Homo sapiens: one gene and its partners. The protein of the gene in region 1 purifies or fractionates together with the protein of each later gene. This does not show direct contact. Each region holds a gene or a part of one and is shown in the gene's direction. Other genes may lie near its edges.

Evidence for each region.
Region 2: the proteins of CIMIP4 (region 1) and RTL9 purify together in Homo sapiens (affinity purification with mass spectrometry; one large-scale study listed by BioGRID and IntAct). This does not show direct contact.
Region 3: the proteins of CIMIP4 (region 1) and MAN2C1 purify together in Homo sapiens (affinity purification with mass spectrometry; 3 studies listed by BioGRID and IntAct, with this or other methods). This does not show direct contact.

What each region holds. Positions count from the first base shown.
Region 1 is NC_000022.11:36,997,788-37,001,434, reverse strand, and holds part of CIMIP4 (ciliary microtubule inner protein 4), read left to right. Parts: intron 1-1,450; coding exon 1,451-1,595; intron 1,596-3,647.
Region 2 is NC_000023.11:110,357,648-110,361,744, forward strand, and holds the start of RTL9 (retrotransposon Gag-like protein 9), read left to right. Parts: upstream 1-1,200; 5' UTR 1,201-1,269; intron 1,270-4,097.
Region 3 is NC_000015.10:75,358,480-75,362,126, reverse strand, and holds part of MAN2C1 (alpha-mannosidase 2C1), read left to right. Parts: intron 1-179; coding exon 180-272; intron 273-406; coding exon 407-523; intron 524-745; coding exon 746-841; intron 842-935; coding exon 936-1,081; intron 1,082-1,438; coding exon 1,439-1,562; intron 1,563-1,915; coding exon 1,916-2,037; intron 2,038-2,138; coding exon 2,139-2,224; intron 2,225-2,351; coding exon 2,352-2,507; intron 2,508-2,688; coding exon of another isoform or gene 2,689-2,701; coding exon 2,702-2,799; intron 2,800-2,935; coding exon of another isoform or gene 2,936-2,973; coding exon 2,974-3,068; intron 3,069-3,318; coding exon 3,319-3,423; intron 3,424-3,508; coding exon 3,509-3,647. UniProt on the Homo sapiens protein: Cleaves alpha 1,2-, alpha 1,3-, and alpha 1,6-linked mannose residues on cytoplasmic free oligosaccharides generated by N-glycoprotein degradation pathways.

The sequences.
Region 1 (3,647 bases):
GACAGCATTTAGTGGATGGATAGCATTTATTGGGAATCAGAAGACGTGCGTTTGAATCCTGGACCTGATCCTAAATGCTGGATGACTTTGGATAAGTTACTTACCCTCTCTGGGCTTCAGTCTCCACATCTGTAAAGCGAGGCAGTTGCACTAGATCAGGCTGACAAATACATGGTGAGCGTATCACAACCCTCCCAGCCTGCATTCATGGCAGACATCACTAGTCAATGCCAGCACTCTTTTCCACCCGATATAGCATTCCAGGCAGTCATTACAAATCAACTGACACGAGATAAAATTCATCTACCGTTTCTGGTCAAATGCTATGTTCTTTCTGTCCTGGCATTCTGAGACATATTTTTAAAGCCACCATCTCAACCCTCATAGCAACTGCATTGTGTGGAAGGTCAGGCAGGAGTTATTGCTTCCTTTATAACAGATAGTATAACCAAGTCCCAAGGAGGGGCTACGATCTGCTTGGGTCACAAAAGCTGGGGGTCAGGCTTCTCCTAGGCTCCCCTTCCACTCTGTCATCTTAAAGTGCAGTGACCCCACCACCAGCAAGTCTGGAAGGTCACAGTCTTGACATGTTCTGCCCCACTTGGAGGAACTTGTCCCAATTTGAGGTTGACTCTGTGGTCACCACCTCTCACCACCCTGCCCAGCCTTGGGAGAAGTCCTTTCTCTCTTCAGCCACCGTTGTCCCTGGCTGGAATCAAGAAATCCGTGTTTTCTGCCCATCTGTAACTTATGTCACAAGTGTCATTGAGCCAGCAAGTGTCAGAGCTGGAAGCCACTTCAAAGACCATCCAGTTCCACCCTGCCTTCACATTTTACATGTAGGGAAACTGAGGCCTAGAGTGGAGAAGAGGCTTGCTGAAGTCAACAGCTGATATATTGCAGAACTGGAACTCAAACCTAGGTGTCCTGCCCCTGGACCTGGGCTCAGCTTCTCTGTGTGTCAGTTTCCCTATTGGTATGAAGAGGGAGTTGGCCTCATTGAAAGTTAAGCACCCACCCAGAGCTGCCCTGTGTGGTGCCTCAGTTGTAGGAGGCAAGCCAGGGCTCTGTGCCCTGCCAGCCATGTGAACTGGGTGATCTTTGGTCTCCTGAGGCCCGCTTTCCTCATTTATAAAATGGTGGGAAGAGTGGCACCCTATAGAGACCCCCCGTCCCAATGTTGCAGGTAGCAGATGCTCAATGCTTGGAAGAGGTTTTATGATCATTAACTTGATGCCCCCCACCCACAGCAGTGCAGATGATGAGAGGAGTTGGGGCTGGGGCCTTTGTATACCCCAGCTCCCCAGCCCTGTGAATAGGTTGAGGGCTGCAGGCTACAGGTGGGATCGGGGTGGGGAGGGCAGGGTCAAGGGAGGAGGAGTTGGAGGGAGATATGGGGCTTGAAACTGCTTTTCCATCCCCTGTCTGTCATCCCTGCCTCCCTGCTCAGGCTCAAAAGGCTATTGATGAAGTCTTCGAGGGCCAGAAAAGGGCAAGCTCATGGCCCAGCAGGACCCAGAATCCTGTGGAAATCTCCTCCGTCTTCTCAGACTACTATGACCTCGGCTACAACATGCGGTCAAACTTGTTTCGAGGTCAAGTCAAAGGGCAAGGGTGGGGCCGTGAACACCCATGGTCTCCCAGGCATTGGGCAGGGAAGGCCTTTGGGGTTTCCACTCCATATGGGGTCTAGGACCCCAGGGCACATCTTCAAGGACACTTATTTCATGCCCATGTGTCCTCTATGTCAGCTTGCGAGTGCTGGGAACATCCAGTCCCCTGTCCTTGATGTGTGGATGATTCATCCCAGTTGGCAGTCAGGCACCTCTGGTCCCTCCCCTCCCATCCCCCCCTCCCCTCCCCTCCCCCCTCCCCTCCCCTTCTCTCCCCTCCCCTCCCCTCCCCTCCCCTCCCCTTCCCTTTCCTTCCCTTCTTTTGTTTTTTGAAGTCTCACTCTGTTGCCCAGGCTGGGGTGCAGTGGCACAATCTTGGCTCACTGAAATCACCACCTCACAGGCTCAAGAAAGCAACCCTCCCACCTCAGCTACCCCCCTGCCCCCATAAGTAGCTGGGACCACAGATGCGCGCCACCATACCTGGCTAATTTTTTTCTTTTCTGTTTTTTTTTTTTTGTATTTTTGCTAGAGGCAAGGTTTCACCATATTGCCCAGGCTGGTCTCAAACTCCTGGGCTCAAGTGATTCACCCACCTTGGCCTCTCAAAGTGCTGGGATTACAGGCATGAGTCACTGCGCCCTCCCCACCTCTTGTTCTTAATCTGCCAGTAGGAGGCCCAGGACCCAGTAGAACTGGGACTGCTGCTCCCCACACCCCTAGCCCCATCCCAGGCACCTTTGGTCACAGTGACAATATCAAGTTTCTTTGGTTCAAAGCTCAGCTCAGCCACTCACTAGCTGGGTATGACCTTAGGTGGGATCCTCAACCTCTGCAAGCCTCCGCTGCCTTCTCGGTACAGTGGGGATGATAATGAGAGTATGGCCCTTGCTGGGTCATTGGCAGGACTTTATGAAGTGCCACATGAAGGTGCTTGGCCGAGGCAAGTCGTGAGCACTCAGTAGCTGTCAGGCTATCATTTTTCTTCTCCAGAGCCTGGAGGTGGCGCCACCTGGGAAGAAAGGAAGGGTGGGTTGGAGGCTCTGACATTTACACAGGGTTTCCATTGGATCAGTGTAGTCCTGTTTGGTTGGGGTGGGGAGAGTGCTATTAGCTCCATTTCACGGGCAGATTTCAGATCATTTGCCTTAGAACTCTCAGTAGTCTGCATTGTGCCTAGGACTCAAAGTCAGGTGTTCCTTCTGCCTTCAAAGCCTCATAGTCTTTTCTTGACCACTAAGTCACCTCCCTAGCTATGATCCTGTTCCCAGGGTCTTCTGGATGGCTCAGATGCCTGTCACAGCACGCAGGGGCTTCTCTCTGCCCCACATTCTGGTTTGGCCTCATTGCAAAATGAGGCTGTTTCTGGTATGGCTCCTTCCTCTCTCCTCACTCCAGGCCCTCTCCAGTGCTCCCAGGGCCTGACAAACCTCTTCCACCTGGCTCGGATCCCTGTCACCTGAGGAACCAGGTGCCCACTGGAAGCCTTTCTGGAGTTTTCTCTGAGCTTGGAGAAGGGATGGTGTCAGGGAGGAAAGCGAGAATACAGTTCTGCTTGTTCTCTGTTCCGGGCCTTCCAGATCCTGCCTTCCAGTTCTCTCTTTAACAACTATCGGTCACCAAATAGCTATTCCATACAACTTTGTATGATAATGTCTACATAAATGTAAAATAATCTATTTTTAAAAATGTCCATGTCCCATCATCCCACCTGGGAAGTAGAACTGTGCCAAGGGTGTGCTGGAGCTCATAGCAAATTGCACCAGCTCACAAGAGGCAATTGTCTCTCTGAACTGACTGGCACATAAATGCTGTCTTAAAATTGGCCATGCTAGTAGTATTTACACTCTGGAAATTGGCAAACACTATGAATCAGGGCTTCACCCTGCCACACAGTGCTGTCAGTGTGCCCATCCATCTGTCCCTCTCTGTTTCCACCCACCCAGGGTTAGCCTTTATACTTGCTGTTTGAGGTTGGTGAGGCTGGTATGGCTGCACAGGAGTGAGGCAGAAGACATCAGAGGAAACAGGCTG
Region 2 (4,097 bases), on another chromosome or scaffold:
CTTGTATTCTCACTGAGTACAGTTCTCCAACTGATGTGTCAAGGATGATGCTTGTATAACTATAGGAGGGAAATCCTCTGTGATTAATGCATGCAGGAGAAAATACTATGCTCTTCCCTGTGGGTGCAGGGCATGTTTCTACATACCCACATTGTGTGGGAAGCAGAGTGGTTATACTTGCCCTTCTTGGATTTTTTCTCAAGGCAAGACCCTGGCCTCATCCTCCAAATGCATGTTCCAGTCCCTCTCTCACATCAGGGGTGTTTACGAGACTGACTTGGATAACTTTTGCAAAATATACTTGCCTGGCCCTCTGTCTCCCCATTGGACATTTGTTTCATGAGGAGTATCATTTCTAGGGTAAAAGCAAGGATTTTGAAAAAAAATTCTTTGCCATTTTATCAGAAGAATTATATTTAATGAAATTAAAAATAAAAATAGGTGATTTTGATGTTCACCCTAGGCTAAGAGGACCACTGCTGTCTTTGAGGCATTTACAGACATATGGAAATCTGAAGCATACTTAGAGTTGCGGGTTCTTTCTCTGTAATTCTTTTAAACTGGGCATAAACCTCAAAGGGAGTGTAAAATGCAGAGTGTTGTCAACTTATCACACCAAGAATATTTTTTTGCACCTTTTTAGTTTGGAAGGGTCAAATTGAGATGACAGAGGAATAGTGGATAAGAGCTATAGTGCTATTAAATTACATTCTAGAGTTGGGAAAATCGAGACCCATAATCCTAGGAATTATTAATGATAAGAGCTAACACTTTCTGAGTGCTTACCACATGCCAGGCCCTATACTGAATGCATCATGTCCATTTTCTCATTTGATCCTGACAACCACCTGTGAGGCCTCATTTTGAAGACAAGCAAGCTGAGGCTCAGACCTTGGATTTGTCCAAGGTCACTCAGTTGGTCATTTACAGAGCCCTGATTCAAACTCTCTTTTGCTTGATTACAAAGCCATTGCTCTAAAAGATTAGATTATACTGTCTGTATTTGCTTCTGGGAGCTTATGGAATTCACTCCTATCTGTTCTCACAAGGAACTCTATTGGGTTTTGAAAAAGGCTAAAGAATTGAAAAGAAACTTTGTAGGCTGGGAAACATAGTGTCCTTTGAGCAGTGAGATAGGCTAAGCTCAGAGGACTGGGCTCTGGAATGTGGAAAGGAGACGTGCCCACTGGAGAGCAAGTCAGAACTTTCGTGAGCCCTGCTCCAGGTCCCAGGAGAAAGTGCCAGCCATGAGGACTGGAGTATTGCCTGGTAAGGAGAAGATTATTATTTTATCTAACACGTTCTTCTATAACGCTCTATATGCTAGGCACTGGTCTGCACTGCTCTAAGTACTTTATAAGTATTAACTCCTTTACATCTTATAACACTTCCCTGGAAATAGGCATTATTATTGCCCCCATAATACATATGAGTAAACTGAAGTTCAGAGATGTTAAATAACTTGTTCAAGGTCACATAGCTGGTTAAGTGCCAGAGCCAGGCTTTGAACCTAGGCAGTCTGGATCTAGTGGCTGTGTTATACTGCTTCGCAACAGAAACTTGATTTTTCTTTCTTCTGTGTTTATCATCCTTTCTCAATCACTCCTGGGCAAGTCTACTTTGCTAGCAAATTTCCCTTACCCCTTTGGCTTTTTTTTCACCCATGAACCCTCTAATGTTTTCTGCAGCTTCTTTGAGCTCATTCTTTATCTTCCACACTGCCTCTTTTGGCATTACTCATGAACGACATGCTCTTTTCATCTGCCAAATATTTTTTCCATAAATTATCCCATCTCAACTTGGGAAGTCACAATGGGAAGTATTGTTCCTATTTTGTGAATGAGGCAACTAAGGCAAGCAACTTTCCTGAAGTCTCACACAACCATCTAGTGGCAAAGTGCACTAGAATCCAGATTCTCTGATTCTGAATCTAATGTTCTTGTCCATTGCACCATCTGATGGAATTTAACTATCTATTCATTAATTAATTTATTCATTAATATTGTAAAAATATACTGAGTGTCTTACTGTATGGTAAGGCCCTGGGTGCAAAAGTCGGTATAAAAATTGTTGCTCTTAAGCAACAGACAACACAGAGAGATAAGGTCTCACCATAAAAAGTTAAATAGCAGCACATATACTAAGTGCCAAATGAGTGGTCTGGTCACATCATACAAGAATTTTGAGGTTGGATATGTAGCATCAAAGACTGCTTTATCAGAAAGGTGAGACTTGAACTTGGCATAGAAGGGTACTTAGAACTTAGAGAAGAGAATGGAGCAGCACTTTCCAAACTCTGGGAATGGTGTGCATTAAAGCAGTCCTTCACAACCTTTATTGTGTCATGGCATGCAGAGAAAAGCATAGTATTTGTAAAGCACACTAGGCTGAATGGAGGAAGCAGTTTGACATCTAGAGGCAAGCATTCTAGGAGTTTCAACAGCACTGTCTCTGGGCTCAGTTGAGGACAGAGAAGAAATCTCATAGCCTCAGACACTTGTAATATGTTTGGGAAGGTCTGCACTAGGTATTGGGGGCACACTGTGGTCATGGTGGGTCTAAAGACCACTGACAAGCCCACAGGGATGAAATGAGGGGAATTTCCAGAGAAGCCATAGTAGATACCATTGGAAAGAAAAGTTATGGGCAAATGATGAAGGGCTTTTGAATTTTATTCTGTGGACCTACAGAATAGGTAGGCAAAATATGCATAGCACTGTTTTAGAAAGATTCCACTGGTTTTCATATGGGAGATTAACTAGAGGGAAGAAGAGTAGTCAAGAGGCTATTACCATTGTCCAGGTGGGAGGTGATGTTATCTTGAACTAGATTGATAGTAATAGAGACAGAGAATGGTGGACAGAATTGAGTTATATTTTGGAGGTAAAAATGTCAGGGTTTGGTAATAGAATTGCATAATGGAGAGTAGAAGAAAGGGAGGTGACAAGGAGGATTTCAAATTTTCAAGTTTAAGCAAATGCTTATGAATAGTGATGCCATTCTTTAAGATAGAGAGCCCAGGAGAAGTAGAAAGATTTTTTTGGAGGGGAAGGACAAATGAGATGATGAGTTTCAAGTTGACATTTGGAGGCAAGGAAACCAGTTAGGAGGCTATTGTAAAAGCCAAGTAAGACAAGGTGAGATCCTGGACTACAATGGTAGCAGTGGGAATGGAAGGAAAATGGTGAATTGAGAGACATTATACAGGAAGAATTGATAGGATTTTGTCACGGACTGACTTCTGGAGTTGAAAGGTAGAGGAAGGCTTGAAGCCTAAGATATCTTCTGTCCTTTATCTTCTTAGTGATGCTCCGATCTTCGTGGCTTAATATACTATCTATTTGCTGATGAGTCACAAATTTGTATCTCCATACTTTTATGCCCAATTGCCTGCTGGACATATCAACTTGCATGCCTAATAGGTATCTCCAACTTACCATGTTCAAAACTGCCCCTGCCCACAACCCCCAACAAAACCTGCTGCACTCACAAAACCTGCTCCTCACAGTCTTCCCCGTCTCCCTAAATACCAATTTCATTCTTCCGGTTGCTCAGGCGGAAGACCTAGGAATCAATCTTGATTTTTCCCTCTTTCATATCCTACATTTATTTGATCAGCAAATCTTATTGGTTCTACCTTCAGAATATATCTAGAATCTGACCACTTTTTCATTGCTACTATCCTGGTTTATGTCACAATGATCTGCTTCCTGGATTATATTGCACTAGCCTCTCAACTGTTCTCCTTGCTTCTGTTCTTGCCACCATCACTCAAGCCTATTATTCTCTCACTGTTTTTTGGAACCAGGATAATTTTATTATGTGAATGTCAGATCATGTCACTCCTCTGCTCAAAACTCCTCCAATGGCTTCCCATCTGACACTCAGTAACAACAAAACCCCTTATAATGGCCCATAATGCTGTATGCAACCCAGATATTGACATACTCCTGTCCTTCAGGTGATGGATCAAATATCCCACTTGGTAAAATCTTCTCTGATTACCATATTTAGTATTGCAAGCGCCTTCTCGCCATTCTCTATCTGCCTTCCATGTTTTATTTCTTTATACTTTGAATACTAGCAGATGTTATATG
Region 3 (3,647 bases), on another chromosome or scaffold:
CACCCCCTCAGGCAGATGGACAGTCAGGCCTGAAGGACAGGGGCCCTTCCTGAGTTCTGGCTGTAACTCCCATGTTTGAGCAGCCCTGGCTTCTCCTGCAGGGATTGGGTTGGCCTGAGCGCCTGCCTGCTCCCCGTCCAGCGCTGACCTGGGCTGCCTCCCACTTCCTTCACTGCCAGGATGGGAACCTGCCCAGTGGAGAGGCCATGGTGAGGCAGTTTTTGCAGGGCCAGAACTTCTTTCTGCAGGAGTTTGGGAAGATGTGCTCTGAGGTAGGCTGAGAGCTGCTACACCAGGCTGTGGGCGAGTGGGGCTGGCGCTCGACTTGGAGTGCTGAGGGGCTGAGGCTGGGGTGAGTCCGCCTGGAGCTCTGGTTCCTGCACTCCAGGATCCTCTTTCTCCACAGTTCTGGCTGCCGGACACCTTTGGCTACTCAGCACAGCTCCCCCAGATCATGCACGGCTGTGGCATCAGGCGCTTTCTCACCCAGAAATTGAGCTGGAATTTGGTGAACTCCTTCCCAGTAAGCAGGCCCCCGGGGGGTCAGGGTCAGAGTGGGCCTCAGTCCCGCCTGGCCCATTTGCCTCTCCCCCTTATTGTGGGGTCCTAGACAGACCACCAAACCCTCACTCTGCCTCTGCCAGGGTCACATAGCAGGCAGGGGCAGGACCAAGTCTGGAAGGCCTGGCTCTGCCTCAGCCCTGACTCTGGCCTCTCTGCCCTGCTTCTGTTTCCCTGCTGGTAGCACCATACATTTTTCTGGGAGGGCCTGGATGGCTCCCGTGTACTGGTCCACTTCCCACCTGGCGACTCCTATGGGATGCAGGGCAGCGTGGAGGAGGTGAGGGGTCACCTAGGGTGGTGGGGTAGGGGCAGGCTGGAGAGGGCTGGCTTGTTCCAGGCTGATCCATGCTGGCCTGCCCTCACCTGTCTAGGTGCTGAAGACCGTGGCCAACAACCGGGACAAGGGGCGGGCCAACCACAGTGCCTTCCTCTTTGGCTTTGGGGATGGGGGTGGTGGCCCCACCCAGACCATGCTGGACCGCCTGAAGCGCCTGAGCAATACGGATGGGCTGCCCAGGTCAGGCCAGGCCTTGGCTCTCCTTTAGCCCCACCCTGGGCCCTTGCCATGAGCCCTGCCTTCCCTCAGACATTGGGCCCAACCCCTCCTCTGGACCTTGTCCTGTCCCAATCCTAGACCACGGGTTCCTCCAAACTTCCACCCTGGGGGTGGGTGGGGGAGAAGCTGAAGCTGGTAAGGGCTCCAGCCCATCAGAGAGAGAGGCTCTCCTAGGGCGTCCAGGGCTGGCCATCTGTGAACGGGGAGCTTTCTGGAGTGGCTCCTCTCTGTAGGAGCTGGATCCTTTGCTTTGGTGTGGAAGAAGGGTGAGCCATGTGGTCTCCAAGGCTGGGAGACCTAGGCTTGTGGTCTCCTCAGGGTGCAGCTATCTTCTCCAAGACAGCTCTTCTCAGCACTGGAGAGTGACTCAGAGCAGCTGTGCACGTGGGTTGGGGAGCTCTTCTTGGAGCTGCACAATGGCACATACACCACCCATGCCCAGGTCAGGGGGAGGTTGCAGGGCTGTGCAGGGAGGGTGTGCCCTTGATCTGCAGAGGGTCAGAGAAGGCAGCAGGGGACAGAGCCCAGGCCAGATCTAGGGGAAGAGAAGTTTGGAGGAGAGAAGTTCAAGACCTGGGTTGGTCAAGAAAGCTTGAAGGAGGCAGAAACCCCTGAAGAAAGAAGGGTTTGGGCTGCGGGGAGAAGAGGGAAGGCATTTAAGGCAGGTCACCCGCCAGAGGCCTTCTCCACGAGGCCCTTGGTGAGTCCTCAGGGATTCTGAGCAAGGGAGGGCTTTGGAAGGTGTCCTGGGACAGCTAAGCAGGCTCCAGACTAATCTTCCCATCCTGGGCTCAGATCAAGAAGGGGAACCGGGAATGTGAGCGGATCCTGCACGACGTGGAGCTGCTCAGTAGCCTGGCCCTGGCCCGCAGTGCCCAGTTCCTATACCCAGCAGCCCAGCTGCAGCACCTCTGGAGGTCAGCCCAGTTCTGTCCCTGCCATCCACCTGACTGCTCACTGCAGTTACCTCTGTGCCTGCCCCTCCCAGCCTTCCCATCCCTGCCCTTGGCCCCTGCAGGCTCCTTCTTCTGAACCAGTTCCATGATGTGGTGACTGGAAGCTGCATCCAGATGGTGGCAGAGGAAGCCATGTGCCATTATGAAGGTTAGGCTCACAATAGTCCTGCCTGCTCTCTCCAACCCCAGGGCTGAGCCCAGAGTGTCCCCTGTGGGATACCCATGGGCACATTCCAGACCTGTTGCCCACCTATGACCAGCCAGTCTTTCCTCAGACATCCGTTCCCATGGCAATACACTGCTCAGCGCTGCAGCCGCAGCCCTGTGTGCTGGGGAGCCAGGTCCTGAGGGCCTCCTCATCGTCAACACACTGCCCTGGAAGCGGATCGAAGTGATGGCCCTGCCCAAACCGGGCGGGGCCCACAGCCTAGGTACGAGCTGAGGGGAAGGGTTGCTACTGCAGCAGGAAGGATGGAGGCCAGACAGATCAGGCCTGGGATACCCCGAGGGATCTGGGTGCCCCTGACTGGAGAGTAGTAGCACATCTTCCACCAACCCATCCCCACCTGCGCAAGCTTCCTGAAAGGTCAGGAAGGCTGCACTGATGCCCAGGCCTCACCCCCAGCCCTGGTGACAGTGCCCAGCATGGGCTATGCTCCTGTTCCTCCCCCCACCTCACTGCAGCCCCTGCTGCCCCAGCAGCCTGTGTTCGTAGTGCAAGAGGTGAGTCCTGCATGCCCTGGGGGGCAGGAACTGTGCTGGGATACTTTCTTACAACTGAGGGTCCTGAGCTCCCCTGTCTGGAGCAAGTGGTGAGGCGGGGCTGGGGTTGGGGTGGGAAGACTTTTGGTGTGGGAAGCCCCTACAGACTCAGCCTCAAGGCCTCCTCCCACAAAGACTGATGGCTCCGTGACTCTGGACAATGGCATCATCCGAGTGAAGCTGGACCCAACTGGTCGCCTGACGTCCTTGGTCCTGGTGGCCTCTGGCAGGTGCCAAATCCTCATTGCCCTTTCCCAGTGCCTGGCAAGTAGACCCCAGGCCATTTCCTCTCTCCCCTTGCCACAACACTGCCCACAGCAGCCCACCAGTGGCTCTGGGCTGGAACCCACACATGGAGCAGGGCAGGCTGGGCAGTAGTCCCCTGTCCACTGGGTCTACTCACTCCACCCTACCCCACCAAGAGCAGCTGGAGACAGCGAGGTCAGTTGGTTGTACAGCACCAATCCCATGTCCTTCCAGGGAGGCCATTGCTGAGGGCGCCGTGGGGAACCAGTTTGTGCTATTTGATGATGTCCCCTTGTACTGGGATGCATGGGACGTCATGGACTACCACCTGGAGACACGGTATAGGCTGGGCAGCATGTGGGGATGGTGGAGGTGGTGGGAACACAGGCTGCTCTGGATCAGTATGTCCACCCCTGTCCCATAGGAAGCCTGTGCTGGGCCAGGCAGGGACCCTGGCAGTGGGCACCGAGGGCGGCCTGCGGGGCAGCGCCTGGTTCTTGCTACAGATCAGCCCCAACAGTCGGCTTAGCCAGGAGGTTGTGCTGGACGTTGGCTGCCCCTAT